5 linked regions of the Homo sapiens genome follow. The protein of the gene in region 1 interacts with the protein of each later gene in a pairwise test. Each region holds a gene or a part of one and is shown on either strand. Other genes may lie near its edges.

What was found.
Region 2: the proteins of RGS20 (region 1) and ABHD17A interact in a two-hybrid assay, tested with the Homo sapiens proteins (one large-scale study listed by BioGRID and IntAct).
Region 3: the proteins of RGS20 (region 1) and KIF1A interact in a two-hybrid assay, tested with the Homo sapiens proteins (one large-scale study listed by BioGRID and IntAct).
Region 4: the proteins of RGS20 (region 1) and TBC1D16 interact in a two-hybrid assay, tested with the Homo sapiens proteins (one large-scale study listed by BioGRID).
Region 5: the proteins of RGS20 (region 1) and OSTM1 interact in a two-hybrid assay, tested with the Homo sapiens proteins (one study listed by BioGRID).

The regions. Positions count from the first base shown.
Region 1 is NC_000008.11:53,955,580-53,961,294, reverse strand, and holds the end of RGS20 (regulator of G-protein signaling 20), read right to left. Parts: intron 3,026-5,715; coding exon 2,837-3,025; 3' UTR 1,992-2,836; downstream 1-1,991. UniProt on the Homo sapiens protein: Inhibits signal transduction by increasing the GTPase activity of G protein alpha subunits thereby driving them into their inactive GDP-bound form.
Region 2 is NC_000019.10:1,877,689-1,883,530, forward strand, and holds part of ABHD17A (alpha/beta hydrolase domain-containing protein 17A), read right to left. Parts: intron 4,879-5,842; exon of another isoform or gene 4,117-4,878; 5' UTR 3,879-4,116; coding exon 3,547-3,878; intron 3,361-3,546; coding exon of another isoform or gene 3,208-3,360; intron 2,428-3,207; coding exon 2,233-2,427; intron 2,171-2,232; exon of another isoform or gene 1,217-2,170; coding exon of another isoform or gene 1,195-1,216; exon of another isoform or gene 1,059-1,194; coding exon of another isoform or gene 976-1,058; exon of another isoform or gene 6-975; intron 1-5. UniProt on the Homo sapiens protein: Hydrolyzes fatty acids from S-acylated cysteine residues in proteins. Has depalmitoylating activity towards NRAS. Has depalmitoylating activity towards DLG4/PSD95. May have depalmitoylating activity towards MAP6.
Region 3 is NC_000002.12:240,815,787-240,822,602, reverse strand, and holds the start of KIF1A (kinesin-like protein KIF1A), read left to right. Parts: upstream 1-2,383; 5' UTR 2,384-2,481; intron 2,482-3,325; exon of another isoform or gene 3,326-3,497; intron 3,498-6,816.
Region 4 is NC_000017.11:79,930,730-79,936,508, forward strand, and holds the end of TBC1D16 (TBC1 domain family member 16), read right to left. Parts: 3' UTR 1,614-5,779; downstream 1-1,613. UniProt on the Homo sapiens protein: May act as a GTPase-activating protein for Rab family protein(s).
Region 5 is NC_000006.12:108,042,242-108,048,490, forward strand, and holds part of OSTM1 (osteopetrosis-associated transmembrane protein 1 precursor), read right to left. Parts: intron 2,600-6,249; coding exon 2,544-2,599; 3' UTR 1-2,543. UniProt on the Homo sapiens protein: Required for osteoclast and melanocyte maturation and function.

The sequences.
Region 1 (5,715 bases):
GGAGAAAAGTCTTGATCCCAATTTGGTAGCCATCAGTAGATTGGTAGGTATTTTAAACAAGGGGATATGAGGACCAAGGGAGAACATACAGATTGGCAAGAAAAGGAAACCCAAGTCCATGCCTTAGGGGCCACCACATTTAACGGCCAGGTAATAACAGCAGCGACTAACGTGTAGTAAGTGCTTACTGTATTGTACATGGACTCGCTTTAATCCTCAGCAACACCAGGGATTAGCACCATTATTATCCTCAATTTCACTGATGAGGAAGCAGGCCCAGAAAGGCTGAGTTCCCACTGCCACATGGCCAGTAGAGGAGTCCGAGAGTCTGATTCCAGAACCCAAGCCCTTAGCTGCTGTGCTCTTCTGCCTGGGAAGGAAACGAAGAAGAGAGAGAATATGGAGAACTAGGAGAGCACCTCAGAAGCTGAGGGAAGTGCTGTTTCAAGGAAGGAGCCATCCATGATATCAGGAGCTGAGCAGCCCACTGAGAAGGCTGGGAAAACTGCGCTGTAGACTTGGCAGGGAGAGGCCTCCTTGGAGAAGTTGAGGGCACTGGAGCAGCTCAAGGTGAGAATGGGGAGATGAGGAAATGGAGACAGCAAGTGTGGGCTATTGTGAAAGGTCTGATGAGAAAGGGGGCAACAGGAGGCAGCTGTTACAGTGGAACGCGCGTTTGTTTTTAACCGGGAAATCGAGCATGCTTACGGTGCGGGAAAAAGCCAAGGTGAACTCAGTGATACAGGAGGGTGGGGAGAAACTGCTGGAACAAAGCTCTAAGTAAGAGTCTTTCATTTACCACTGTTCACCACCGCCCCTCGAGACACTCCCATGCATTTGCTGCCATATTTCCATATTCCCCAACTCTTCTTACTTTTATTGACAAGGTGAATCCTAAATCTCCTTTGGGGCTGTCAGTTCTGTCTATCCTTGCAATGATTTACCCTCAGCTATCTTTTCATGCATAATTCTCCAGGCAATCTTATTCCCCTATGTGCTGAAAAACCCCAAAATCAGTACGCCAGCCTAGACTCACCCACCCAGATCCCTCCATCCAACTGATTCCAACATGTCCTTTCATGTGTGTCTTCCCTCGTTCTCAGCATGTCGATTCCTTTGGGGTCACTCAGTTATGAATACCATCTCATCCAGTGCCCTCTCTGCCTCCAACACATCCATTCTTCTTGTTCTCTGGATTTTGACTTTGGTGCCATCTCCACCAGAATCTTTCCATAACCCTTCGTGACTCCCACAGCGCTGTTCTTCCCCTGCTGTGGTTCTTACTATATCAGAGTTGCCACTGACATGTCTGTCTGCCTTTACTGAATGTAAACTACTAGAGGGCAGGGTTTATGTCTTATTTGCAATCACATCCTTTTTTTTTTTTTTAGTAAGAAATGAGATTGGAAAACTTGGAAGCACATGTAAGGGATTGACACCTCAAAAAGGAGGAGAGCACATTGTTCTCTGGGACTGGACTGAGGGAGATGAGAATAGACGCTGATCTATATATATTTATAGGTTGCACGGGAAGTTGAGGGGACTTACGGACACAATTTGCATAGTAGAGTAGGAGGTAAAATGGTTTCCTGAGAATGAAGGAGAGGGGCTTGGGTTTGGGGCTTGAGTTGAGTCATGAAGATACAGGCAGGCTATGGAGGGGCCAGGGAGGGAGAAGGACCCAGAGGAGAACCATTCCCCTCGAGGGCAGGAGCACGGTGCCGCCTCCTGCAAAGTAGCGTCTTTCCCACTACTCAGAGCGTCCCAGATTTTGAGTGTGTTTCCTATTCTATGTAGAGATGGATTTCTTCAGGATGGTCTAGGTCTACCAACTGGTAGTTTTACCTGTGAGAAGTTATTCTTTTTATCTATGATAAAAATAGTGGGATCTAAGGACAGAATCCTAGTCTGGGAGCTAAAAGATAGGCTGCACGTATCCCTACTTTCTTAATCTTCTATTTCCCAAATACGTACATATGGAAAAATAAAGATTGAGATAAAATTCTTGTGCTTTATTTCTTTAAAGAATGAAAATGCCCATATTTCTTTCAGTAATAAAAATGGAAATATGCTTATTTGACAGTTTTGTTGTGAACATGACCAAGTTATGAATTTAAAAATTCATTCTTTAGGTTGGCAAATTCTGATAATAACAGTAACTCTTTTCAACAAAAGAATTTTCTAAGCACTGCTGCTGTTACCAGACACTTGAGACTGATCCACTTCAGAGCACAGTGCTTTCCATTAACCATGTAGACATCCACACGCACACATATGTCTCCATACATACATACATACATACTGTAAGATCAAGTAGAATGCTATTTTTACATGTAGTGGTCACATCTTTTATGAACTGTGAATTTGGGTCCTGCAATGGCACTGGTAAGTGACGTATTCAAACCGAGCTTGCTGGACAGAAGATGTCGTTGAGAAACACCTGAATGTCTTTTCTTTGAGGGGAGAGTAATCAGTTACCAAACTCATGCAAAATAAAAGTGGTTCCCTTTGCTCTGGTGGATGTACCTGCTCCGGGCAGCAGGGAGCCTTCTGTGTAGCCTTGGCCACTGACAACATGCTACTGTTATTGTAAATGCAAATACGCTATCTTTCTACAACAGCCATATCCCTTTATTTTTTTTTTTCAAAAGTATCACTAAAGGTGGCTGCAGTTTACATGGTGAATATATAGCAGTCTGTTGAAGGAATCATCTGTTATTAGAATAGCCTGAGTATTACTCCAGCAGAAGATGCTACAACCTCTAAATTCCCTGTGCTAGTTGTAGCCCATGAATTCTTTTATTATTTTATTAATAATAAATATATTTGAAAAATCCTATGCTTCAATAGATTTCTCCGATAAGGACTGAAGCAAGTCCTTATAGACAGCAGAGTTCATGAATCGAGGATATGAGTCTCTGTGCATCAGGGTGTAAATCTGAAGTTGAGCATCATCGAATATGTGTTGGGATGGCTCCACCATGTTTCTGTTGATCACTTCTCTCACCCGGGAGTCTAAGCTCACCTGTCGACAGAAACGAGTAGGAGCTGTATTAGAGACTTCAGTTGTATCTCTATCCCAAACTCCTAGAGCTTGTGGGGATTTTTGTTGTTGTTTTTGTTTTTTGTTTTTGGTTTTTTTGTTGTTTGTTTTGTTTTGAGACAGAGTCTTACTCTGTCACCCAGGCTGGAGTGCAGTGGCGCGATCTCAGCTCAGTGCAACCTCCGCCTCCTGGGTTCAAGCAATTCTCCTACCTCAGCCTCCCGAGTAGCTGGGATTACAGGCACCCACCACCACACCCGGCTAACTTTTTTAGTAGAGACGGGGTTTCTCCGTGTTGGTTGGTTTCGAACTCCTGACCTCAGGTTATCCGCCCGCCTCGGCCTCTCTAGCTGCTGGGATTACAGGCATGAGCCACTGTGCCCGGCCTTGTTGTTTTTTAAATATCCCAAACCAAACAAGATCATCCAAAAAATCCAAACTGCCAAAGAGAAACCAAAAGCATAATCAACGCAGTTCTCAAATGTCAGTGGCATCAGCAGGCTCCAGAGGGCTTGTGAGAGCGGTTCCTGGGCCCCACCCCAGACTCAGTAGGTGTAGGGGCCCCTGATGCTTGTTATTTCCCACAAGTTCTAAGTGATGCTGGCAGGGCTCACACTGCTGCTTTGAAGAAAACAGGCAGCACAGACTGCCCCTTGCTCATTTCCTTGTAACGTGGGGGCTGACACCTGGAGGCCCAGGCTTCCCCTGCTGGCCCACAGTGGCAGGGCTCTGGGGATGAGTGCTGGCCTGCCCGGAGGGTTGGGCACAGGGGTGAAGTGGAAGTTGACTCAAAACCCTGGAAGGTTCCAATCACAGGGCCTGAGGGCAGACAATGCCTGTGTTTAAATTCCAGCCCTGCCTGGGTATGGTGGCTCACGCCTGTAATCCCAGCGCTGTGGAGTTCGAAACCAGCCTGGCCAACATGGCAAAACCCCATCTCTACTAAAAATAAAAAATACTAGCTGGGCATGGTGGCAGGTGCCTGTAATCCCAGCTACTCGGGAGGCCGAGGCAGGAGAATCGCTTGAACCTGGGAAGCAGAGGTTGCAGTGAGCCGAGACCATGCCACTGCACTCCAGCCTGGGCAACAGAGCGAGACTCCATCTCAAAAACAAAACAAAACAAAATCCATCCCTGTCACTGTATAGCTGTGGGGCCTCAGGCAAGGTAAACTCTGTGTCCTAGTGAGCTCTTCCCCTGAAGTGGGGATGATGATGATGGTAATGTCTTAGGTTTTTTGTGATTTAATGACAAAGTGCTTGGATTTCACTAAGCCCATAGGAGATGTTGATTGCTCTGATGTTTGGCTCTTCCTAGACAAGGTGATCTGCCTGCTTCGGCCTCCCATAGTGCTGGGATTACAGGCGTGAGCCACTGTGCCCGGCCTGTTTTTGGTTGTATAATACTTTAAAAGATTGATGAAAAACCTTGCCTTAAAAAAAATCATGACAAAATAAAAATATGTGGAAGCCATAAATTAAAGGACAAAAATTATCTTGCTCCTTATTAATTCAAAATGAAAATAACTTTTTGGACTCAGTATTCAAACATGTCAACTGAATATTACCAATTTAACAACGCAAACTTAAGAAAGCAAAACGTAACGACGCAAAATTAAGTAAGCCAACGACCCCACCACCTGGTCTGCCTACACCAGACATATGGGAGTCATTTGAGACGGTGGGGTTTGCCTCAAATCCGACTCTTCCTCTCTAGCGTCTTCAGCTGGCCTAGCTAGGCCCTCACCATGTCCCTTTGGACTCCTGAATTAGTTTTCTAACGTCTTCTGCCCCTGGTCTTCTCCAAATTCACTCTGCAGCCCTACTGGTCTTTCAAAAATCAAAATTTGATGATATAAACAGGCTAAAATCCAAGGGCTTCCCAAGATAAAAATCCAGACACTTCGCCATGATGCCCAAACCTCTCCATGCTCTCCGACTACCCCTTCTCTAAGTCTCCTCCTGCTGCCTGCCCCCAGCCCTAATAGTTTGGTAAGCACCCTCCCTTTCTGGCACAATCTGTGTATACTTGCAGTGATCACACAACTTCATGCTCTTCCCCTGGGCTCGCCTGGTCCTGTCTCCTGGGATGTCCCCATCCTGCTGTGTTTGTGGAAATTTCCTTTTCACTATCCTTGGTCCATCTGTAGCCTCCTTGAGTATTTTTCTCATTCTCGCCCACCCCTTTGTGGATGGCTCACCCCCGAGCCCCAGTGAGTGCTGAGAGTGTGGCCAGGGGTCCTGGTCTGTCCGCCCACATCTCCAGGAGCTCCATGACAGGAGAGGCCCTGCTTCTTCAACTTGACATTCCTGTCGGCACATAGTAGGAAATAACTAATAGTTTTATAATTAGAGCTACAAGGCACCCAATTTGAGAACAATCTGACCTCCTAAATTTTATTTTATTATTATTATTTTTTTGAAATGGAGTTTTGCTCTTGTTGCCCAGGCTGGAGTGCAATGACGCAATCTCTACTCACTGCAACCTCCGCCTCCCGGGTTGAAGTGATTCTCCTGCCTCAGTCTCCTGAGTAGCTGGGATTACAGATGAATGCTACCACACCTGGCTAATTTTTTGTATTTTTAGTAGAGATGGGGTTTCACCATGTTGGCCAGGCTGGTCTCGAACTCCTGACCTCAGGTGATCCACCTGCCTCGGCCTGCCAAAATGCT
Region 2 (5,842 bases), on another chromosome or scaffold:
TGGCGGCGCCGGAGCAGGGTCAGCCGCGGCCTCCGACGCGCGCGCACCCTTCCCACCAGCGGGCGTCCCCGGGCCCAGCTCCGGATGCGACCCTCCAGTCTCCCCACTCAGCCAAGTCAGTGGGTCAGGCTCAGGCTCCACACCAGTCCCGAGGGCCACCCCCAGCCCCCAACACCGTGGCGGTGGGCGAAGCCAGCGGCCCCGCCCCGTTCCCTGCGCTGCCGTTCACTGGCGTTTCCTAGCTAGGATCTGCAGGGATCCTGCCTACGGAGTGCCCCTGGGGCGGGGGTAAGGGAGGCCCTGGCGCCTCTCCTCCTCCTGGTCACCCCTAGGTGCACACTGGGAACTGTGTGGCCCCCACATCCTGAATGCTTCACACCTTCCTGCCAGGGTTAGAAAACCGTTCCTGGTGCACTGGCCAGGACAGCGGACACTATTCCTCCCTGCAGCCCTTGCCCACCCCCTTGGCCATGAGGAATTCAGGCAGCTGTGTCCCCAAATGTCTCCACCCAATTTTGGACTCTCGGAGTCCCCACGCCCAATGAGATGCCAGTGCAACCCAGGTCAGCATCGAGGGTGGTGGCTGCGGAGGTGGCACCCCCTCCCACCAGCACCTTCCCTTGGGAGTGGACAAGTCCTCGGCCACCTCAGCACCACCAGCTCCCACCCAGGGGCACCCTCACCCCCAGGTCATTGGTGTGCGGCCCCTGACCCAGCTGATCCAGCACCAGTTACAAGGCCTCCTCGTGCCCAGTCCCAAGCACACGGGACCCACCTGCCACCCTGCCCATGCCGGGACCCCACAACTCTCCTCCCACACGCTCTAGGCTCTGATCCCAGGCAGACGCCCTCTTGCAAGGCAGGAGCATGGGCAGGTGTGCGTCCCCTCTGCCTGGCATCTCCACCAGCAGGGCTGTCCCCGTCCCTGGCCTGGAATCCCAGCCTCCTGGCAGCACTCCACAGCTCGCCACTCACCCATGCCCCAAAGGATGCTGCCTGGCTGGTGCCTGTGGCTCCAGCTCTGCCTCGGCCTCCCTGGCCTGCTCCCTGGCAGCCATGGTCAGTAGTGTGCTGAGCCAGCCCAGCCCTGCCACCTGCTACAGGCAGGAGCCCCGAGCTGCCACCTGGATGTCACCACTCAAACGAACAGGACACATCCCCGGTGGAGGCCCTGGGCACGCTCTGGCCTCCCCCTCACAGCTCTGGGCCTAGGTTCCTGCAGGACAAAGTGGCAGCAGGACAGATGGCCGAGCAGACAGAGCTCAGAGCTGGCCATGGCAGGTGTGACTCTGCCAGTGGCCCAGGCAGTAGAGACAGGAGGGGCCGAGGAAGTCGCATGAAGTGGTGATTGGTGTCAGCGTCCCACACTGCTGGGAGGCCCCCAGAGCCAGGGTGGTGCCAGGGGACCAGCTCCCAGGCCCACTGCAGGGACTGCCTGCATATCACCAAGGCAACGACGACCCCACCTCCCTAGGGCCTCTGACTTCTCAGAGCTGTGCCTGGTCCCTGTGGGAGCAGGTCAGACCAGTGGGCTGGGCAGGGCCAGGACGAGACAGGCCCAGTGGATGGTGAGCAGGAAAAGCCACCAGAGGCCCACCCGGGTCTCCTCGTCCAAAGCAGCACTGGCCCGGGCGGTGCTCAAACACCGGTGAAGGGCCCAGGCAAGCGCAGGGCTGGGGACGTGGATGACTAGGAGGGCTGGATCTGGAATCGAGGCTGGCCCAGACCTCGGATGTGTGCTGCGGGTCTGCACCTTACCCTGTAGGCCCTGCCCCAGGATGGCCAAGCTCCGCAGCCACAGGGCCTCATGGGCCAGTCCTCCGGACCTGGATGCAGCAGCCTCGCCTCACTTGGCCCCAAGTGCTGCCTCGGCCGATGGGCTCCCAGCCACACGTGCACAGACCCCCAGACCACCACCCACTCCCTCCCGCCGGGTGGCATCCACACCCCTGTGACAAGCTCAGCCCCTTCCCATCCTCAGGCCAGGGGTTCCCAGGGAACCTGGCTCCACAGGCCAGGGTGTGGGAGGACCGCCTGGCCACACCTCAGCCATGTGGAGGCGGCACCTGCACACCCAAGCTCGCCTGTCCGGCTCTCTGGCCCTGTGCATCCACTGTGGCTCCCCTCCTGCAGGGCCGCCCACCTTCCTCCCAGGGAAGCCCGCCCCCCGGCCCCCCGCCTGGTCCCCTCTTGGGTGTGCCCAGGCTGAGCTGCCCCCAGGGTCGCCCTCACCTGGTGCGCAGGGCCTGCCAGGCGGCGTCGATGTCGGCATAGAGGTTCCTCTCGGAAGGCCTGCCCGAGCTGGCACCGTAGCCGGAGTAGTCGTAGGAGAAGATGTTGCAGTGGAGGCGGGAGCCCAGGCCAATGTAGAAGCTGCTCATCTGGCCCAGGTCCACGGCATTGCCGTGCGAGAAGAGGACCGTGTACCTGGGACAGGCCGAGAAGGGCCGTTCACATCCTCGCTCCCAGCGCCCAGCTGCAGGGCAGGAGGATGCGTAGTGACAGCCCACCCCGGTGGCCAGCCATGCCCAGTGCCTCATTTACTCCCCTCCCAAGGGGGCCAGAAGCCAGTGAATGGAGAGGGGAGGCTACGACAGCACAGCTCCATCTCCGAGGGTTCCCCATGGGGAGAGGACAGGACAGCTGGCAGGGGGACAGGCAGCCTGGGCTGCAGAGGCCAGCCAGGGAGCCTCAGGATTCCCATCTGTGAAGCGGGACACTGGGACCATCGGTCGCATCCTCTCTCAGGGCAGACTCGCAGTGTGTGCTCAGATACTGCAGGCTTCACTGCCCTTCCTCCTGGAAGAACCTGGACCCCCGGGGATGGAGCGCACAGGCCCACCTTTCAGGACCTTCCCAGGGGAGCCCATGCTGCTGCTGGCAGGGCTATCTCCCCTCACCTCACAGAATGGTGCCCTCACTGTTGGGGCACAACTGGACCCCACCCCTGCCCCCAACAAGCAAATGCGGCCAATCTCTGCTCACACTCATGCAGCCCCTCCTGGCCCACCACCCTGCCCAAGCCCCAAGGCTGTGCTGCAAGGCCTGTCTGCTTCCCAGCACGGGAGCTGCCCCAGGTGGTGCCAGGAGCAGGTGGCCAGGCTGGCCCTGCCATGGACTGCTTCCTCCAGTTCCCCCAGGCCCCCACCTAGCCCAGCCAGAAGGTAAAGGCTCGCCCTCTGGACTCAGATCTGGTCAGAACCCCACCTGGCGAGAAGGTGGATGTACCCGCAGGCCAGGGCAGCCCCTGTGCCCCAGCTCTTGCCCAGCAGGCAACCACCAGGCGCTGGGTTGTTGGAGTCGCCCAGCCTGCCCACCCATGCCAGCTGGGGATGGCCTCCCTGAGCCTGGTGTCCTTGTCTGCGAGAGAAAATTGCCAGAGGGACGAGGCCGGCCTGACGGGGGATACCACCCTTGCTGGCTGGATGGCCCTTCACGGCAGGCTCGGGCCCTCGGGGGCACCACCAACCACACCAAGCACCGCAGGCAGAAACGGGAGCCCCAAGAACAGGGTGACCCAGCCCAGGCGCGGCCACAGCTGCTCACCTGGCACCAGGCACGCAGCGAACATACATGCAGGAGACGCGGTTGCCGCGGGCGCTCTTGGTGGGGAAGACCTCGATGGTGTCCAGCTCGCGCTGGCTGTACTGGAAGTCGGCACGCTCCGTCAGGTGCAGCTTCCAGCGCCCGGGTGCGCCCGAGGAGGCTCTCAGGGTCCCCAAGGGGGCGGCCCCGGCCCCACCAGGCCCCGGCTCGGGCTCAGGCACCAGGGAGTAGGTGGCCTCCGGCGGCAGGAAGGCGAGCTTGGCAGCGATGCGGCCGGGGCAGGGCGGGCAGCAGAAGAGGCAGCAGAGCTCACTCAGCGACAGCCCATTCATGGCGGGCGCCGCCCAGGCCGGGCCTCCACCGGGGCCCCCGCCAACAACGCCGCCCGGCCTGGCCCGGCAGGGGAGGGGTGGGGGTGCTCCGAGTCGCGGGCAGGGGGGAGAGCGCCCCCCCAGCTACCGCCCCAGACAGCAGCCCCGTTAGGAGGCCAGGGCCCAGCCCCATCGCGGTCCAAGCCGAGCCCCAGGGAGCCTCGCAACCACAGGTCTCCATGTCGTGCCGTGGGAAGCCCTGCGGGGGAACAGTGACATGTGGGGTCCTTTGGGGGTGCCACAGTCCAGCTGGGCACCCCCGGGAGGCGGGGCATCCACCCGTGCCAGGGGGCGGCATGGGCCCGGGGCCTGTCAGTCCCCATCCCCTCGGCCCTCCCCACGGCCTGTCAGGCACTGCACCCTACAGCTCAGGGGACCCCAATTCAGCCCCCTCTCCACAGGATGAAGGAACCCCCACCTTCCCTGAGCTGGCGATCACCACCTCTTGCCATGTGAGTACAGCCATGGCATGCGGGGCATGCAGGGGATATGACCCCAGCCCCGCCCACACCCCCGAAACGCCCGGCTCCAGCACCAGGGAAACCCCATGCGCCAGGACTCGGTCCGCACTGCTGCCCACTCCCTCCCCCGGCCCATCTCTGCCACCCTATGGGTGACGGGCCGCTGAGGCAAGGACAGAGCTCGAACTGAAGGGACCCACGAGGGACCCGAACAGGCCCCGCTACGTGAGCGTGCACAGGCGCCGGGTCCCACCGGCCTGCGATGTCTGGAGACAGAGGAAATACAACAAACAAAGGCTCTAGAAACAAAGGCAGGATACATCCCAGGCTCCTAGGGCCCCCAGAGCAGCAACAATGGCTCTTCTCTGTGCTGGAGCCAGGCCTGCTGAGGGGCAGGGGAGGTGGGCTGGCGTCAGGGGGTCCTTCTCCACCCCTGACTTAGGGTTCCGTGACCGTGGGCGAGTCCCTTGCCCTCCTGAGGCCTCAGCATTCTCATCTATAAGTGCAGACACCACACACCCCACAGGAAGTCAAGTGAGGGGGGAGGGGAACGAAGGTGCCTGATTGAGAGTGGAAACTCGGACCTTCTTCCTTGCTGCAGAACGTCATGAAACACATTAAGTCGACAACAGCTAAGTTGCTAAAGCAACCACAATAGTGTAAGGACCTGCCAACAGACAGACGTGAAGAAAACACGAAGGTCTGAGACGTCTATCTACCGACCACGCTTCTCCTTCAGACTGGAGCGAGGAGAGAGACACGCTCACAACTCAATTTCAGCAGAACACCCTGGAATGCTTGGCTTTTGGGTCACAGCATGAGAAAACCGTGGGGCCAGGAAGATGAGGCTCAAAGGCAGATGTGGACACAGATGGACATGCAGGCAGCTGCAGGCGCCACAGACACGGCTCGTGGGGACACCCTCACTACCAAGGAGCAGCCTCAGGCCCAGAAACACACCTGCTCCCTCAGGACCTGATGTGAGACCCACGTTCCTGTGAGCCGGACTCATGGGCACACGAGGAGGAGAGGAGAGAGCTCTGAAAGCCAGGGTGGGGCAAGGATGGCATCCCAGTGCCCCCAGACTCCCAGGCGGAAGGCAAATCGCACATGCAAGCACTTTTCAGCCGGGAGGTGGACTGTCAGGCTGGTTCTGCTTCTCAGATGGAGGCGAGTCTCCCTCCTGGAGACACCTGTCAATGTCTGGACACAGTTTTGGGTGTCACCACTGGGGACTGGGTGGAGGCTGCTTAGCACCCTGCAGTGCCCAGGACAGACCCACCCCAAAGAATGATCAGGCCCAACATCCACAGCGTCGAGGTTGATGTCAGCTTTTCAACATATTCTCAAAGAGGTCCAGGCCCTACCGGTGCTGCCCCGCTGGTGCTGGGGACTTGGAGGGCCCTGCAGTTTAGGTGGCATCATGCAGCTGGGTCCTGAGAGCCCAGTGGACAGCAGCAGGCC
Region 3 (6,816 bases), on another chromosome or scaffold:
GGCAGTAAGGCTGCAGTGCCACCAAGCCCCTGGGGCTCTCCGACCTCCTGCCCACACCTTTATCAATAGTCTCTTTATCAAACCCTTCTCAAATTACCCAATTTGAGTGTGCCATCTGCTTCCTGCCAGGATCTTGACTGAATACAGACTTGTTCTCTGACAACAATGCAATTAAATTAGAACCTGGTAACAAAAGGTTATAATTAAAGAAACACTATTGAAAAGTAAATAACATTATTAAATAACCCTGGGTTTAAAAGGAGATCATCAGGAACAGTAGAAAATATTAGATATGAATGATAATGAAAACATTTTATGTCCAAATTTGTGAGACTCAGCCAAGACAGTTCTGTAGAAGGAATTTTGTAGCTTTTAATACAGTAGATCTATTGGAAAATCAGAAGGCTTAAAAAGGAGCTAAGCATTTGGTTCAAGACAGAGGAACAGATCAAATCCAAAGAACCACAAAGGAAGGAAATAATACAGAAAGACAGAAGCAAATGAAATAACGGGAAAGACGTTTAACAGAACTAAAAGTTGGAGCTCTGAAAATATTTAAAAATATTAAAAGAGAAAAATGCAAAAAACAAAATACAGGCCAAATGCATGCCAGTAATCCCAGCACTTTGGGATGCCGAGGTGGGTGGATGGCTTGACCTCAGGAGTTTGAGACCAGCCTGTGCAACAGGGCAAAATCCTGTCTCTACAAAAAATGCTAAAATTAGCTGGGCGTGGTGGCACACACTTGTAGTTCCAGCTACTAGGGAGGCTGAGGTGGGAGGATTGCTTGAGCTGGGGAGGCTGAGGCTGCAGTGAGCCAAGATGGCACCACTGTACTCCAACCTGGGAGACAGAGCAAGACCCTGTCAAAACAAACAAACAAAACCATAAAAAGCCAGAATATAAAGAAAAAAAGATATGCTAGTCATTTAAATATTAACGTGAAATAGATTAATTCCTAGAAAAATGTCTATTGCCTCGAGAAATAGAGAACTTGCCAGATTAAAAAGCATGAGGAAAACGGAGGTGATAAAGACCCCAGCCCCAGAAGCCCAGATGGTTTTATTGTTTCTGCCAGGGTTAGGAAGAACAATTGATTTCTCTTTCATGCCGGCGGTTCCAGGAAATAGTGAAGGAGGAGGAGCTGTCTAGCTGGTTTCGGCGGGGCTGGGGCTGGGAGTGGGGGGCCCGTGTCTTGCAGAAGTGGATGTGAATCTCCCCCAGCCACCTGCAAGGCGCTCGCACGCAGCTGTCGGGACTGAGGTGAAGCCGGCTCTCCCAGGAGTGTGGATGAAATGGTTAACGGCGAGGCCGCTAGGGCAGCGCAGGCCCCTGCTGGGCGCCAGGGAGGCTTAGCCAGGCGACGCCAGGATGCCCATGGCAGGGGCTCGATGGCAGGGGCTGGGCTGGAGGGGACCCAGCCCCGGGGTTCAGGGTGGCCCGAAATCCGTGCACCCCCGCACCGCAGTGCGGGGAGGTTCCCATGGGCGAGCTGCCCAGAGGCTTTGTCGAAGTTGCCCAGCCCTGGGACGGTGGAGGGAGGACGGTGGCGCGCACAGAGATACCAGTCAGCCCCTGGAACTAGGAAGGCGGCTGGGGGCGGGTGACGCAGGCTGGGGTTTGCCGGGGTGGCCCCCGAGCGGCGTGTGACTTGGGGGTCCAAGGAAGTTAAACTGGACAGGCTGGGGTGAGGACAATGGGGGCCTGGAGAGGTGGGGCGAGAGGAGGGCGGGGGGTCCCCACGAGCCGCGGTAGAGGCGAGGCGGCGGGTCCGCGGGCGGGTTGCATCATCCGGCGGGGAGGGCCTGGGTCACTGCTGCTCTTCCCCCGGCGCCCCGGCCCCGACACAAGATGCGATTTCACCGCGCACCTGTTACACCCGGAGCCAGCATCCCTGGCGCAAGGAGCCCTCCCTCCCCAGCCCCGCCCGCCCCCCACGATGCGTCTGTCGCTGGCTCAGAGCGGGGGCAGGTGGACGTTTTACGATTTCACTCGAAAGGGGCCAGGGTGGGGGACGGCCCGGCGAGGGGTCCGCGGGCAAGTTCAGGTGCACGCGGGGCTTCGGGACGGGGCGCCGCCGGGTCCCTCCCCCGCGAGGTCTCAGGGGCACGCCGGGGGAGGGGACGCTGCGTCCGAGCCGGGTGTCGGTCCCCCACCCTCCGCGGGGCCCGCCGCGGTGTCAGCGGTGACGTCACAGCCCGGCCCCGGCCCCCTCCGTCCCCAGCCCCATCCCCGCGGCGGCCGCGTCGCCCGTCCCTCTCCCCGCGCGACAAACCAGCTGGCGACTGGAGCTCGGACGCCGCGCGCAGCCAACCAGCGCCTCGGGAGGGGCGCGGGGCGGTCCGGGCCGGGGGCGCGCAGCCCGTCACGCGGCGGCGCCGTCACAGCGCAGAGCAGCCGGCGAGCGGCAGCAGCTCCGGGCTCGAGAGCCCGCGCCCATGCCAGTGCCCATGCGGGGCCGCCGCCAGTGACGCCGGAGAGGTAAGGCCGCCGCCCGCCCGGCCTCCCGCGCCCGCGCCCCTCGCCCCGCACCTGCGCCCGGCAGCCCGCGCCCGCAGCCCGCACCTGCACCCACTGCGCCCAGGGCGGGGAGCTCCGGCCCGGCGCCCTTGTTGCCGCCCAAAGCGCAGGCACTGCGAGGCCCCTTCACTTCCAGACCTTCCTCCATCTCCGCAGAGAACAATGGGGGAAATTCAGGGGTGTCCGCCCTTCAGGTGCCGCTGGAAAAGGTCCCTTTGCCGCGATCTCGGCTGCAGCGGGACCCTCGGCTTAGGCGGGCGGGGGTCGCCCTCGGGAGGGCTCGCCCGGCCGGCGGGATCGGGATACCCCCGCCCTTCCCCGGCTATTCCGCTTCCCTGGAGAGGAGCCACCGGCGGGGCTGCGGGAGGGGCTGCGCCCAGACGGCGGGGGAGGGGAGGGATGGTGAGCGGGGCTGAGGACGCTGACGCCGCACCTGGGAGGGTGCGCGGCTGCAGCGCCTCGGCCCGAGGGGAGAGCGCGCAGGGCGGCCGGGCGCGGGCAGCTGCTCCGGTTCCCGGGGTGGGGGAGGGCGGATGCTGGAGCCGGGAGCAAAACAGGCGGGCGGGGCGGGGGCTGCGGCGTTGGGGCCTGGCCACCCGCTTCGTTGCACGGCCGGCCTGCCCATCACCCCCTCCCACGCCAGAGACCCCAGCTCCCTTCCAGAAAGACCCAGCACCTGGGAGGGGCCGCCGGCGAGCACTGCCTGCGTCTCAGCAGCCAGCGCCCCTGTAACAGGTGTGGCCCGGCGGCGAGGGAGGGGCTGCGGGGCCGCAGGGTCTAGGCTGGCGGCGCGCCCCCGGCGCCCGGGCTCGGATGACACGAAGGAACAGTGGCCGCGAAGACCTTCGCACTCCCGCTTTAAGCCGCTCCTCACGCTGACTTCCCCCAAACCAGCCGCGCTGCCCTCTCGCTGGGAAGGGCCGGGGCAGCATCCCCGCCGGGAGGGAGGGTCCGCAGGAGCGGGGCGCTGGGCGCCGGTAGGTGGGGTTGGGGGGGCCCTGCCGGCCGCAGGGGCGGGAGGGGGAGGGGAAGGAGGGAATGCCAAGTCATGGGGCCTGCTGGGCGCGAGCGCGACGTCGCCCGGCGCGGACCCGATGCGCGCCCACGTCCCCGGGAATAGGGACTTTCCCCCAGAGACTGGAGGACCCCTTCCCCAAGCGTCAGCCCTTTCCAAGGGGTGCCTGCATTGCTGGAATTAAAGGCCTGCCAGGGCAAGCGGATTGGATCTTGCGGCTGCGGAGAGGAGGCGGTGCGGAGAGGCCCCTGCCTCGCAGGGCTGGCACTGGCCTCACCCTGGGGACGCACAGCGCGACACCGTGCTCGGCTCTGCGGGACACCAGGTCGCACTCAGGCTGGCGGGGCCTTTGCCAGGGAAGCCATGCCAGCACCCTCGTGGTGTGAGAAGGCAGCAGAGGGTTTGAAGGGAAGCTCTGGGGTCCACGTGGGGGTTGGGGCTGCACCTGCGGCGGCCATTTTGCAGGTGTGGTTGGCCACCAGCCTTAGCCAGGCTGTGGAGTGGGGCAGTCAGGAGTGGGGCAGTCAGGAGTGGAGCAGATGTGGAGCTTGCGGTGCAGGGTGTGGGATGGGCCAGGGCCAGGGCTCAGGTCTGCCCTTGCACTGAACACACACCGTCTATTTAGAGGGGTTCCTTGTTTGGTTGATGGGGTGGTTGGAGTCAAGACCCAGGAACCCTCTGGACCGGAGGGATGAGGAGGGATGCGGTAAGGCCGCTGGCTGAGGGGCCCAGCGTGGGATCGGAGGAGGGCAGCCTTTACCCGGGGTGAAGTCTCGGGAGGGTGCTGGGTCCAAGGCAGGGCCCGGATGAACAGCTTCACTCCGGCTGCAGATGGATCTGAGGCCCTGCAGGTGTCCTCCCCGGGCAGGTCCGCAGGGTGGACAGAGGCTGGAATCAGTTGTCAAGGCAGGGGTCCCGGGCCGGGCCCAGGGAGGTCCCTGTGGTGAGGGCCTGCAAGATGTCTGCTGTGTGCCAGCCCTGCTCCCAGCCGGGTGCTGCCCCCCTGGGTGCCTCCTTTCCCCCTTCCCCACTGGAATGTCCCACAGACTGCCCCATCTGGGGCTCCAGCCGGCCAGCCACAAACAGGTGGAGCCTGGAGTTCTGCCCAAAGCCCAGGGATGATGCTTGGCTGGATCAGGATTAAAACTGGGGTCACTGCCCGGCCGCCCAGCCTGTGCCCCGCAGTCCTCACTGATGTCATGACTGCTGACCTTGGGCCCACCATGCCCTTTGGGAGTAGGGTAGGGCAGTCCTCCTGTGGGATTTGTGAAGGGTGGAGGGGGAGATGTGAGCTGGAGGAGGAGGCCCTGGAGGAGACTGAGGGCATCTCTTCAGGCCACTCAGCCGGGCCGGCCAAAGCAGGTGAACTGGGTGTGGTGGGGACGGGAAGGGAGACGTTCCCACAGAGCCCTGGTCCTACCAGATTGGGGTCTATGGAGGGGCTACCAGCATTAGGTCATTGGGATTTACTGAGCCCTGCACATGCCTAGCTGGCCAATCCCGTCAGGCCTGAGACCATCCGTGCACATCTATCAGTGAGCTGGGAGGGGCCTGAGCCGCTACCACGGGTGGAGAGTGGTGGGCCTGGGTCTCTGGGTGGCTGTGATTGGTAGGATGAGCACGTGGTTGTCTGCCTGCAGAGTCTGGGGACCTCTCTAGGTCATTGCCACATTCAGTGTTCTTAGGCCCAAAGGATGTGGCTCACCACCCACAATATGGGTGGCCAAAGGGACTCAAGGTGTCACCTCCCACTGCCCATCACCCACTCCATGCCCAGGAGCGTCTCTGAGAACCATGGGGGGCTGGGCCACACCCTGCCCCGAACCTGTCCATGGGTGGCCAGGGTACCCAGGGACACAGCCAGGCAGCGTTGGGCCTGCGTCCTTGCCGGCTTCTGCCCCTTAGGTGGTGGCCTCCGGCCATAGGCCCATCCCTGCTACAGGAGGGTTTGGGATCCCAGAGCTTTGCATCCCAGTCCTTTGGCATGGCACCTGGGCAGAGGCAGGGGCACAGTGGCCCCACCTGACGAAGCCAGCTTGCTCTTTAGCTCCTGAGCCCCACTGGGATCCCCACCCTCAGCCTGGCTGGCCTCTCGCCACCCCAGTGCCCCCACCCCCAGGGCCTCAAGAACCCAGGGAACAGCTGGCTGGGCTTGGCCCACGTGCTGCAGTTGGGGGTGCTGTGGGGCAGAGGGCACAGTCAAGGTCAGCAGCAGGTGGAGACTGAGCCTCCTGACCTCTCCTGCTCCTTGCCAGCCCATCCTGCCAGCTTTGGCCTCCTGCAGGCCTAGTGCATTGTAGAGATTGATCCGGATGTGTGGATATGGGACTTGGATGTGGGACTCAGAGGCTGGGGTTGCCGGAATGAGTAGGAGGGGCTGCTGCCTCTCTAAAGCCTCCTCACCCTGGATTTAATCTCCTAATCCCAGGCCTTGTGGTCTGGGCAGGCCCAGCCCTGGCTGCCACAGAGCCTGGGGATTCAGATGACCTTTGGGGGTCCCTCCTGCTTGCCATCCCTGCCAGATTTCAGGACGCCTTGGGGTATAGGGAGGGCAGGCCAGTGCCTGGCTCTCCAGGCATCCTCGTGCTTATTCCTCACCCCTCCCCACAGTGCCCTGGAGGGGTCCAGAGCAGTCACCCGGCCACACACACTCATAGTCACATGCATCCACTCGAACACACACAGATCCACATGCATATACACATACACACACATTGCACACACACTGACACACACATGCACGCACACCCACCCATGCATACATTCACACACACAGACACTCATACACACACATGCATGCTCATGCACACTCACATACCCACACATACATTCACATACAAACACACATACACACATGCTTATGCACGCATGCATACACACATGCATGCATGCAGATAGACACACACACACACACACACTCTGCATCCCTTGTCCCTGTCTTTGTTCTTGCCTGGGTTTCTTCTCAATACTTTCTACTCAACCTCCACATTAGGTTTTAGGTCCCCCTCAAATGCTGCCTCTGCCATGATGCCTGCTGTCACCCCTACCCCTCAGATTGGCACCCCCTCCACAACCATAGGTTTCCAGGGGTGGGGAAGAAGACAGAGAACACTGGTCATAGCCTGCACTGTGCACCTCATGTGCTTCCCTTTATCCCATGCCACTCCACACCTGAACAATGAGAACAGCACCGCTTGGCTCGGACCCCACTGAGCCAGGTGGTGGTGTTCCCATTTTCCAGGTATGGAGACTGAGGCTCCTGAGAAGCCCATGTGGCTTGT
Region 4 (5,779 bases), on another chromosome or scaffold:
GGTCGTGGGGAGGGGAGGGGACACTTTGGGGAAGCCACAGGGGGTCTCTAGGTATCTCTGGGATGCTTTCTGGTGGGGTGTTTCCTCTAATCAAAACCATCGTGGGCCAGATTCTGGGGAGCTGGCAGCCCCCCCACACAAACAGACCTTGGTGTCCTGGATCAGCTTCAGGTACCTGATGGGGTGAGAGGATCGGTGCAGAGGCTCAGAGGCCAGGCCAGTTTGGTGACCCATCAGCTGAATTTCAGACTCCGGGTCCCCAGCCCCTTCAGAGACACTGGGACCGCTTTGGGGCTGCCCTGAAGGCTCCAGAGGGTGGAGGGGAAGGGCATGGTGCTTTTGCTAACACTCTCACGTCCCCTGGGAGCAGGTGGGTGGCCACCCTGAGGCCACTGCACGGGGGAAGGGACAGAGAGAGGTGGGGTGGGGGAGGCGGAGGGGAAGCTGCAACCAGCTCCCGTGGGGCAGGGGGTCGGCGGGGGTTTGTCCCTGCTGTGGGCACCTGGAGCGACACCTGTGGGGGCAGCTCCTCATCTGACCTGCACTAACACTAATCTTTAGTCAGCTCCAGGGACTCACCCACCCTGAAAGACCCCATCCTCAACCCTATCAATAGCTCTAGTTGCATTTCCGGCAAAATCTGCAAGAGCTCGGTTCTTTGTCTAACCCTCCAGGGAAACAAACAGTTCACCTCCCCTGGAATGTCCTCATCCCCTTCCCGGGGTCCCAACACCCTCCCCAGCCCCCACCCTACTCCATCTCAGGCTGGCTGCCTCTGACCCTAAAAGTCCAATTCTGTTTGTCTGCCGGGTTGGGGCACTCATCTGTGGCCCAGCCAGGCAGAAAGACAGAGAACCGGGGGAAACTCCCGTCTACATGAATCATGGGGCAGAACCTGGGGATTTATCCAACAACCAAGAGGGCGCCTGGACTTTGAAGAAAGGCAGCACTTGCCCAGAGGAGACTGTTTCAGGAGCTAGACCCCACCCTGCTCTTGGGGTGGGTGGTGGCATTTCCCAGGGGGCACCTGGGCTCTTGCCTAGTGGTCTGGGGTCCCTGGTACTTTATTTCTAAAGTTGTCCACATCAGCAGGAGGTGAGTGGAATAGACAGTGGAGGCCAGGTACCTGGAAACTGCTCCAGGGGCTGTGGTGGGAGGGTGACCCAGGTGCCACCCACCTGAGATGTGGTCATGGTTGGTTTTGTCTGAGCTGGTTGTTTGCTTGCAGAGAGGGAACCCAAAGGTCACACCAGAAAGCAGGCTTCCAGTGCAGTGAAGGCGAGGGCTGGAAAGCCGCACCCACCCCCGCACCCACCCCTGCACTTGTGTAGTCCTCACGTGTCCTCTACATCCTGGGCCAGAGGGAGAGGCCCCTTCAGCAGCGGCTCTCCCAACAAAGAGGAAGGCCCCCACCAAGAGCACGCACTCAGAACCCCAGAGTTCTAGGAGGCAGAATGGATGGCACCAAGAGGTCAGCGGTCTAGAGTGGGTCTCCCAGAGCCCGCCCCGTGGCAGCACCTCATGTGACCACTGGCGCCTTTGCCCAGGTTCTCCACACTGGAAAAGTGGAGAATGGCTAGATGGTGCCCCCTCCAATAATCCACAAACCTGGGTGACACTTATTATCCTTCAGTCTTTATTTTAAATAAGGCCCCTGTCCTTTACCCTCCCAAAGTACTTTTAGACATTTTCCTTCTGCCCAGAATCCTCTGCCCGGTCCCCTGTAGCTAGTGTCCAGACACTGGTCACAGACCTCCACTGAGCCCAGTTAGAGCGCTGACCTCCCATCTCAGGACTTCTTGGCCCTTGCCCATTGCCATACTCTACTGTCAGATTTTAAAACTGCTAGACCATGTGCCAATTCACATTGACTTGTAGCCACTAGGACCCTGTGTCTTTTTCTATTGTGCTTGTTCATGGCCAGGAATCAACGAACTTTGGACAGACAATCAGTAGACTTTGGGTGTGGCCTTGGTGAAGGCTTCCCACTTTGGTGACTTGCATGTGCCCCTCTTTGTTGAGGGGGTTTTGAAGCAGCTTCTGCGTCATTGGGAGCTGGCTGCTGCGCCCAGCCTGAGGCCCTGGACCCCTTTTGCACCATCCTAATTTCAACATCCAGATGTCAATTCAGAAAATTATTATATCATTCTAATGACTCAAAACATAAAATCCCCTCTTTTGTCTCATGTTGAAGAGCTGATGACATCGGACCTATCAGGTCAGACTTATTTTCCTAGTCAGAGACTGAATGGCATATTTTCAAAGCACTTCGTCTAAATTGCATGGCACACACCCCAGGAGCCCAAAGATCTGGTTGTTCTCTTGAGATGCAGAGAGGAGGCCCACAGGTGGCGGAGGGGTGAAGGAGGAGGAGCCACCACTTCCGAAGCATCAGAATGTCAAAATCTAAGTTTTCCACGAGGTCAGCAGCAGGTGTCTCCTGGTCTGGAGAGGGCATGGAAGTGGCCACAGGTCTGGACTTCTCTGGGTGGATGTGAGGGAGGGTGATTGAACTGGAGGAGGGGGCTGGCTTGAGACCTTCCTGTTCTATGTTGGGGGGGATACTGAGGGTCCGTCTCACTGGGACGAAGAGGGGGCACAGATGCAGGTATGCCCAGGTACCTGAGTCCCAGCCAAAGCGGCAAAGCCAGACCTCCCGGGATTCCTTGAGTTTGGACAAAGGGTGTCCCGACGACGATAAAGAGCCAGGAGCAGAGAGCCCTGCATCTTGCCTGGGGCCCCTTGTATCTCTGGCTCATGGCCTGTCCTGGGCACGGGGAGGAAGGGAGACACCCGTAATAATAACAGAGACCGCACTGGACTATGGGGGATCACAATGGGTTTCAGTTTGATTGAGAGAAAATAAGGTAAGGGACACGTGCTCGCCTGAGTCTCTGGAGTAAGAGTCACGCCTTGGAGAAGGAGGGCAGCCAAAGGCCACGCAGAAATTGGGGGTTCAAGGTTTGCCCAGCCGGCCCCAAAGGTGTGGGGGTCCACATGGCCTCACCCAGGGGCCAGTGGGGTGGCTTTGCTCATTTGAGGGTGTGCAGGGTACATATGTGTCTGCCCCGGGAATCCAAGTAGCCCCAGTGCGCTCCTGCCTTGCTTCCCTAGAGCGAGCCCACGGTACCATAGTCCTCGTGGGATGAATGCATGAATGATGTGGAAGGAGCCAGAACAGGGCTGCAGACAGGATGCTCTCTCATAGAAGGACCCCAGAGAACTTCCCCTCTGGAGCCTGTGCGGCTGGTTGAGTGTAAACGCTGAGTCATGCTCGCTGCCCAGCTGTGTGGCAAGGGCACTCCCTAGGCACTGAGCAGCCACCGCCAGCCCTGAGGGCTGCGGGACAACAGAGAGCCGGGCCTGCCCGAGGCACGGCCCCTGAAAAGTGTGGCCCGCCAGGTGGCACCTATGTTCTCTTGCCCGGCGTGGGTGACTACACAGTTGTCATTTACGGGGGAAGTAGGGCACAGCAGAGGTGAACATGAGGATGATGCTGCGTCTGGGCTGTATCCAGGGAACCAGCTGCCGGACAAATTGGAAGGGACCTTCTTGGCAGGACAGGTCCAGTTGGTGGCCTGAGGTGGGGTTGTGGTGGGCCTTGTCCCCCTGCAGGGCTGACCCGTGCAGGTGGGATCATCCTTCCTGAGGAGCTGCCCTGCCCAGTCCCGTTGCCTTGGAGGCGGTGACATCAGGGGCCCCTGAGCCACCAGGTTCCTCCATCTTCATGTGGCCACCACGGCTGTTGCAGAGTCCACGGTAAGAGCCAGGACGTGGCTTCCAGGCAGGATGGGGAAGCACCTCCCACTCCCACATGGACAAAGATTTCTTTAAACGGAGCCACCAGCCATGCCTGGTAGTGGGTGCCCTCCCTAGGCAGGCAGTGCTGGCTCTGCTCTTTCCTGGGGGAAGCCCACTGCTCCTCCTGGGGCCTAGTCCGTGGGACCTGCCCAGCCAGCCTTGGGAGGGGCACCCCTGGGCATGTGGAGAGGAGGTGATGAGGCGCTCAGATGTCGAGGCCAAGGCCAGGTAGGTGGCAGGTGAGACAGGCCCTTCAGACATGAGACCCGAGTGATGTAGATAAGAGGTATGTTCCCCTCCAGCCCCCGCCCCCAGGCAAAAGGGGAAAAGACACACAGAGAACAACAGAAAACAGTTGGAAACCCCAAAGGGCGCTTGATGAAGAGCTGGAGCTCCCCGCCCCCCGTGCTCCGGGAGGACCAGGAGACCTGCTCCATGGGCCAAACCGCCTTTGCCCATCCCTCCCCTGACCCCTGCTGCACGGTTCCAAGGGCTTGGTAGGGCAGCCTGAATTTTCCCTAACTCCCACTCCTAGGAAGGTCAAATTCACCTTGTTTGCCTCCTTAAAAATTCACAAATGCAGGACTGAGGCTTTTCCTGAAACCAGAGCCCCGGCAGCCAAGGCTCAATAAAATACTGTTTGTGTTTCCAGGCACTGGGGTGGGAGCGAGGCTCCCAGTTGCTCAGAGTTAACCGGCCCTTTCCCGAGTGAGACCCCGCGAGCACTCGTCAATTCTCCCATCACCCTCCATCGCCGCCTGCTGGGGGGGCCTGAGGTCCGGAGCTGCTCTTCCTCCTGGCAGCCCAGCCTGCAGGCCTAGTGCTGTCCAACCACAGCCCAGAGGGCAAGGCCTCCCAAAGTGGGCGCTTGCTGAGCCCCTGGCCAGCCTCCCAGGACCCTCAGTCCCCACAGCCCCCATCCAGCTCTCTTTTACACCTTCCCCTCCCCCATCTCAGAACATGGGAGAAGCCGGGCACACTGGCGTCTGCAGGCTGCCCTTGGGCTGCCACGGGGCCCTGTTTGCCCAGCACAGAGCCTGCCGTGCTTTGACCCAGCAAGTCCCACCGCACCTTCCAGAGGCACTGTACAGCGTGCATCTGTTGTCAGTACAGTTTTATTTGCTGTGGAATCCATGAGAGCCGGAAGCATCGTTGGGGCCGTGGCTAGCAGAGCTCATGGTGACCAGTCCTGGGCCTGACCAATGGGTGATTACATTTAAAAACCAAAACAAAACAAAACAAAATACCAAGAACAGATCACTTGCCATGGACATCAGTAATCTATTGGTAATGGTGGAAATTTCATGAAAATTTCCCCTAAACCATAACAAAAACTGTCCTCCTTACCCCAAAAGTGCTGGAGGAAAGATGGTTGCATGACTTGACCTCTCTTTGAACTTGAAATGCTACCTTCCTACCCGGAAATGCGACACACTATACTTAAAAGGCCAGATGGCTGCAGGCTGTTTGCACCCCTGGCTCTGCCCAGGGACACCCCTCTCCTGGTTCTAATGCTCAGACCCAGGAGGCAGAGTCCGCAGCCCGAGGGAGCTTCAAGGCCGAGGGGTAGGACCTGCAGGGCCCACACCACCCTTCTGATGGAGAGCTTTGCACATGCATTCACACACACATGCCTGGCGGGATCGCAGAGGATGGGTCTCGTGGCAGGAGTGGGCAGAATGGGGTGCATTTTACAGAAGAGTCACAGAGAGGCTCGCCCTCGGCGGAGGACACACAGCTGGGTGGGCGTGTGGGAGTGCAGGTGTGCTGACTCCGAACCAAGGGAGAGCTCTCCGTCCTGAGCTCGCTGCCCCTCACGATGCACACGGCTGATGGCTGAGGTCAGCGGTCTCTTCCCTGAGTGGCAGGTGTGGTCCCTGGGACTTCATAAACCATCCTCATGACAGTTTTACACTTAGAGTCCCCAATGCACTCCCAGGAGGTGGCCTGGGCAGGCAGGCATCATTATTCTCATGTT
Region 5 (6,249 bases), on another chromosome or scaffold:
GGCAACATAGTGAGACACTGTCTCTACAAAAAAAAAAAAAAAAAAAATTAATTATAAAAAAAAAAGAAAAAATATATCTGATGTTATTTCTATCTCTCAAGTTCAACAATAAATAATCCAAAGTACATTTTTATTTGCAGCAAAATTTAAGACAGACAGTACTTTCTTTTTTCTTTTTTTTTTTTTTTTTTTGAGACAAGGTCTGGCTCTGTCGCCCAGGTTGGAATGCAGTGGTACAATCTTGGCTCATTGCAACCTCCACCTCCCGGGCTCAAGACATCCTCCCATCTCAGCCTCCCAAGTAGCTAGGACTACAGGCACTTACCACCATACCCAGCTAATTTTTGTATTTTTTGCAGAGACAGTGTTTCACTATGTTGTCCAGGCTGGTCTCGAACTCATAAGCTCCAGCGATCTGCTTCAGCCTCCCAAAGTGCTGCAAATACAGGTATGAGACACTGTGTCCAGCTGATGGTACTCATAAAAGTAGGCATCTAAACTCAATACCTGAAAAACAAATGTGATGTTAAATTACATCTGAAATTTTAAAAATGTATTTAAAAATCCAAATAAAGCTTACAATTTCCTTATTTCCTTTATTTTAATGTGTCAAAAAAACACTTAAAGATATTCTTGTAAATACATATAAGCTGTGTGTCAACATTCAGTACTATGCAAATCATTTTTCAATATGACAAAATGAAAAACTTACACACTTTAGGGTAGCGCTTAATACTTATCTTTGAAATCTATTGCTGATGCTAGGTCTAAAGAGCAATGACTCAACCAGAAAAAATAGTAAAGGCTGCCTTTTCCTTTTTAAAGTGCTTATTAGCTTTATATCCAAAAACAATGGTTTTTACAAATACATAATACTGAAAGGTGCTCAAAAAGTCACCACTTACAGAATTGAACATGTCATTTTCTAACTCTGCACATGTAAACTTGTTTTATCTGCATTAATGAAGATTGCTTCAAATGGCTCTCAATCATATGCTTCAAATCAAGACAGTGCTAAGTTCCAGCAGCATAAACAGTGACAGCAGAACAAACCCCAGCACATTTTCAGTGGATCACAGCAGATCAGAGAAAGTGTAACAGCTTTTGAGTATGTTATACATCCAAGAGCCTTATATTTCACTCCACATAAACAGTAAACATAAAAGAAAAAAGAAACACTTTGTCTCCCTATAGAGCATTTTATAGTATAGGAAGGGATTCAAATTCTCTTTTTAACAAAATTCTTGTTTCTATATAGAGGAGATTTTATATTCTTAATGTTTACAACAAAGCCTATTTCCACCAAAAAAGCAAGAAGAAATTAATAAATGAAATCCTGAACTCTAAAAACCTAAGAAATAAAACTGTGAACAATTCTGAAACGGAGTGTTTTTTCTAAAGGCTAATACAAACATACCAAAATAGAATTTCTGAGCACGAACTATGTGATTTCATTTCAATCGTATCACTTTCATCTGATTGAAATAATTTAGAAACAATAAGGATGATCTTAATCTCACTATTTTCTGCATGAGACTATCGTTCCGATTCATCCCCTCAATACACACCACTGTCCAACAGTCTTACAGTGAGCATCCTCTCAGGTCCCTTTCTGCTCGCTGAACCTTAAGCTGGTTTTACCCCTCCTGTCTCTCTTCTCCAAAATCCTCTATATATCTTAAGAAGAAAATATTCCTTTAAAAAATGACAATTTAAATACAGTGTGATAATGCTACATTTGATTTAAAGTAGTAATAAATTATAAATTGCCAAATAACTTAATGTAATTCACGATGCAAATCCTTGGTATAAAAATAATCCATATTGCCCTGAATATAATAAAGCAATCCAGTGATTTTTAAATTACTTATGAAATAAAGGCAAAAATAAGATGTAAAATACTATTTATAAAAGTCAAGTAAGAAACCAGTTACCATAAATCTTTTTACAAAGATAAATGTAATGTGGCTTACTACTTTTAAAAATTGTCAGGGAGGTTTGCAATCAGTGGTTTCAAAAATGACTCTAGGGAAACTAGAGACTGAATTATATATTATTGTGATGTACAACATATTAACTATATATATAACAATAATACTGCAATGGGGGGTAATTAAGCTACTTCCTAACAAGTACATTTCTTTTTCAAAGTCTTTACTGTAACTGATTAATTTTTAAATGTTAGTTTTCAAAAACTTTTCTACTTGAGATATTTATGTTAGTAAGAAGATACCAGAAGTCTAGAATAGTAATCAAATGCCTATAAAATAAAATAATGATTGTTCTTGCATGTTCTGTTATTGTGACAAATACACATTAAAATAGATAACATTGCTATGCCTGGAAATTAAAAATATCCAAATCTGTTAGAAAGAAGTGGAAAAGGAAAGAAAAATCGAAAATTCTTATTTAAAAATGGATCTGAAGTCCTTGTATTTCTTAAGAGCTTGACTTGTCAAATCACAGTTTATCTTCTTTCTGAAACCAAGTTGTGTCTTCCACCATTCATTCACGTGATATGTCAATTCTCCATTTTGTAGGTCTCAGTTTGAATTTTCCTGAATATTTGCAAAACTGGTACTGGACTTGAGACGTTTGGCTAGATAAATCAAAAGAATTATATTTTAATTTAAATTTAATTATCAAACATGATTATTTACTATTTTTATGTAATCTATAGTATTTATCTATTAATTCTATGTTTGAATCCTAACAGTTCCAGCCTTATAAGAATTAAAACCTAATTAAAACTTTTTTCTACCAACCTTAAAAACACATAACTTTGTTAGAAATTGCACATGACTTTGTTAGAAGCAGTACAAATAAAACAACATCATTTATATCTTCTTGAACATCACAATCTTAAATATGTAATGTACGTGAAATAAATGTACTTAGACAATGAAAGTGCTATAAGGTAGAATAACAAAATTATACATCTAAAAGTCTAAGTTAGAAATCCAAATCTGAATTTCTCTTAAAAGAATTCAGTGAAAACTTCCCCAACCTGATAAAGAGCATGTACAAAGATTCTATAGCAATCATTATGCTTAACTGTGAAAGACTGAATGATTTTTCCCCCTAAGATCTGGAATAAGACGAAAATACCTGGTCTTGCTTGACATCATGCCACTAATTTATCACCAGCGCAACAAGGCAAGAGAAAGAAAAGGAAAGCTATACATATTGGAAAGAAAGAAAGAAAACTGCTTCTATTTTCAGATGAAAAAAAAATCAGTGAAAGAACTCTGTAATGGGAAAAAAAAAAAACAAAAACATTTTAATGACCCTCAAAGAAAAGTGAGTTGTATATTATTATGGAACTCTGTATTGTAAAAAAAAAATTTTAATGATCCTCAAAGAAAAGTGAGTTTTATGTTATATAAACACACAAACACATATGGCTGCTAACAAAATACGTTACCATCAATTCTGATTTGATGCTAATGGGACTGAGTCATTAGGGTTAATAAAACAAATCATGGCTATTTGGCTTGGTAATATGTTTTGTACTTATAGTTAAACATGAATGTTTCTCATGTTCTAGAAATGAAAAACAATCATGCCCATAGTGAGAGTATTTTATACTGAGTAACTAAGAGTCTCCCTACTTCAGAGCTTCACAAAACTTGGGTAGGGGTTATGATTTAGAAGCTCTGCAATGGGACCCTAGTACCTGTACTTTTTTAAAGCTCTGCAGATAATTCTGATGTGTAGCCAAGGATGAGAACCAGTGTTTCTGGTTTCTTTTTTTATTTTATTTTATTTATTTTTTTTGAGACGGACTCTCGGCTTTGTCACCCAGGCTGGAGTGCAATGGCTCGAACTTGGCTCACTGCAAGCTCCGCCTCCTGGGTTCACACCATTCTCCTGCCTCAGCCTCCCAAGTAGCTGGGACTACAGGTGCCCACCACCACGCCCAGCTAATTTTTTTTTTTTTTTTTTTTTTTTGGTATTTTTAGTAGAGACAGGATTTCACCGTGTTAGCCAGGACGGTCTTGATCTCCTGACCTCATGATCCGTCTGCCCCGGCCTCCCAAAGTGCTGGGATTACAGGCGTGAGCCACCGTGCCTGGCCTACCAATGTCTCTGGTTTCTTTTTTTTCTTTTTTTTTTTTGAGACGGAGTCTCACTCTGTCGCCCAGGCTGGAGTGCAGTGGCGCGATCTCAGCTCACTGCAACCTCTGCCTCCTGGGTTCAAGCGATTTTCCTGCCTCAGCCTCCCGAGTAGCTGGGACTACAGGCGTCTGCCACCACGCCCGGCTAATTTTTTTTTTGTATTTTTAGTAGAGATGGGGTTTCACCGTGTTAGCCAGGATGGTCTCAATCTCCTGACCTCATGATCCACCTGCCTCGGCCTCCCAAAGTGCTGGGATTACAGGCGTGAGCCACCGCGCCCGGCCTGTCTCTGGTTTCTATCAACTGTAAGTGGAAAATCACAACATGACTTCCTGGACGAGTGTACTGCTTCAGCTTAAAATAAAGGGAAAACTTAAACTAAAAACATTGGCCTAAACTAAAATCTACTTCTTAAGCCTTCAGTAGATTTGGGAGGCAAACCAAATCAATAGTTTGGGTTTTTGAGAATTACTTTGTTAAAAACTACTAGAAGTGATCTAGCTTCTGACAAAATTCAAATGACTTAATAAACTGGACAAGTTAAATACGAATGAGTACATACACCTACATCTTCCTTGCCTTTATATTCCCTACCTGATAAATCCCCACATCCTTTAAAATTCTAGCCCAGGGATCATCTAACGGTGAATTTCAACACCTCTAATGCAGTTAGCTCCTCCCTTCAGGCAGGGAAGACAAACAAATAAAGTAGAGAATAAATGAAAAAGATGATTTAAATAACCAATTATTTAATTTAAATTAGTTTAAGTGATTAAGTGCCATTAAAGAAAGACGGCACAGAAGAACAAATGGAGAGGTGTATTCTTAGACTGGGGAGTCATAAAAGGTCTCTTTGAGCAAGTAACTTTAGAGCTAAGACCTGGCTTGCAAGAAGCCAGGTAAGTAAAGAGGGAAGGGCCTTGGAAAAGGGGCAGTGTGAATGAGCTTGGTAGTGGAGAAGAACAGAAAGGAACCAGACTGTCCACAGCACCATGAGCAATGAGGAGAATGGATGTGACGAGTTTAGAAAGGTGGCTATGGGCCAGGTCATGTACAGCTTGGAGAGCAGACCCTGGAAAGTAAGTTTGGATTTATTCTAGGTACAATGGGAACACATTAAGCATTCCAAGTTAGTAGAGAAACATGGTGAATTTGTGTTTAAAAAATTATTCTAGCCACTATGTGGCGTATGGATTTTAGTAGATCAAGAAATGGAAGGAGGGATACCAGTTAAGGGGCTCTTGCGTTAGTACAGATAAGAGATGAAGATGGTTTGGGCTAGGGTTTACCAGTGGAGGGAGAGAGACGGACTAAGCAGAACTGGCAGCATACTTGCTAATGAATTAAAAGGGGATGAGAGGGGAATGTGGGAATGGAAAAATAAAAGAAAGAAAATAATTAAGAAATGACTACAAGGTTTGTGGCTTCCATAGCAAATAGTGACACTGGTAGTGACTTTTACTTTGACAGCAAACAAAAAATCCTGATCAGAAGCAGTAAATACTTTCCATAAAGTTAAATAGATTAGCAAGGCAAATAAGATGCTAAACTTTAAAAGTATACCAAGCTCTGAAAAATAGTTTCTCAATGGTGAGGTGCCCACAATATTTTGCTATTATTCTAAGTAAGTGCTTTAAGGACCTGAGCTACTGCATATTTACAGAATGCTGGCAGCCTTCAAAAAACCTTTAATAAATACACCCATGACAAAGACTCTCCCCTCTAGTAGCTAGCATTTTAAGGTGACAAAACATTACAAATTCAGTTCAAACTGATCTACAGGTAACCTTTTTTTAAAAAAATTAGATATATTAGAAGTGAAGTTAGATGAAGTAGTGATCGAAATTTATAGGGAAAAGAATTTTTATATCAGACATTCCTAGACTACAAATAGTATTTGAGAGAAAAGAAAATTAACCTTTTCCCCTAAACAGTTCTCTTTTTTAAAAACTAAAATTATTAAGGCATAAGCCTGTACTTTCATTCTGATAATAAACAAGAAAGCCACGTGACTTAGAAGCCACTCTTCCTTAGCTGGATGGGATCTCTAGTTAGTGCTTCTTTTGCTCTGGCCTATTTCATAGGGAGAAAGAAAGGGAATTAATATGTATTGAGCATATACTATTATAT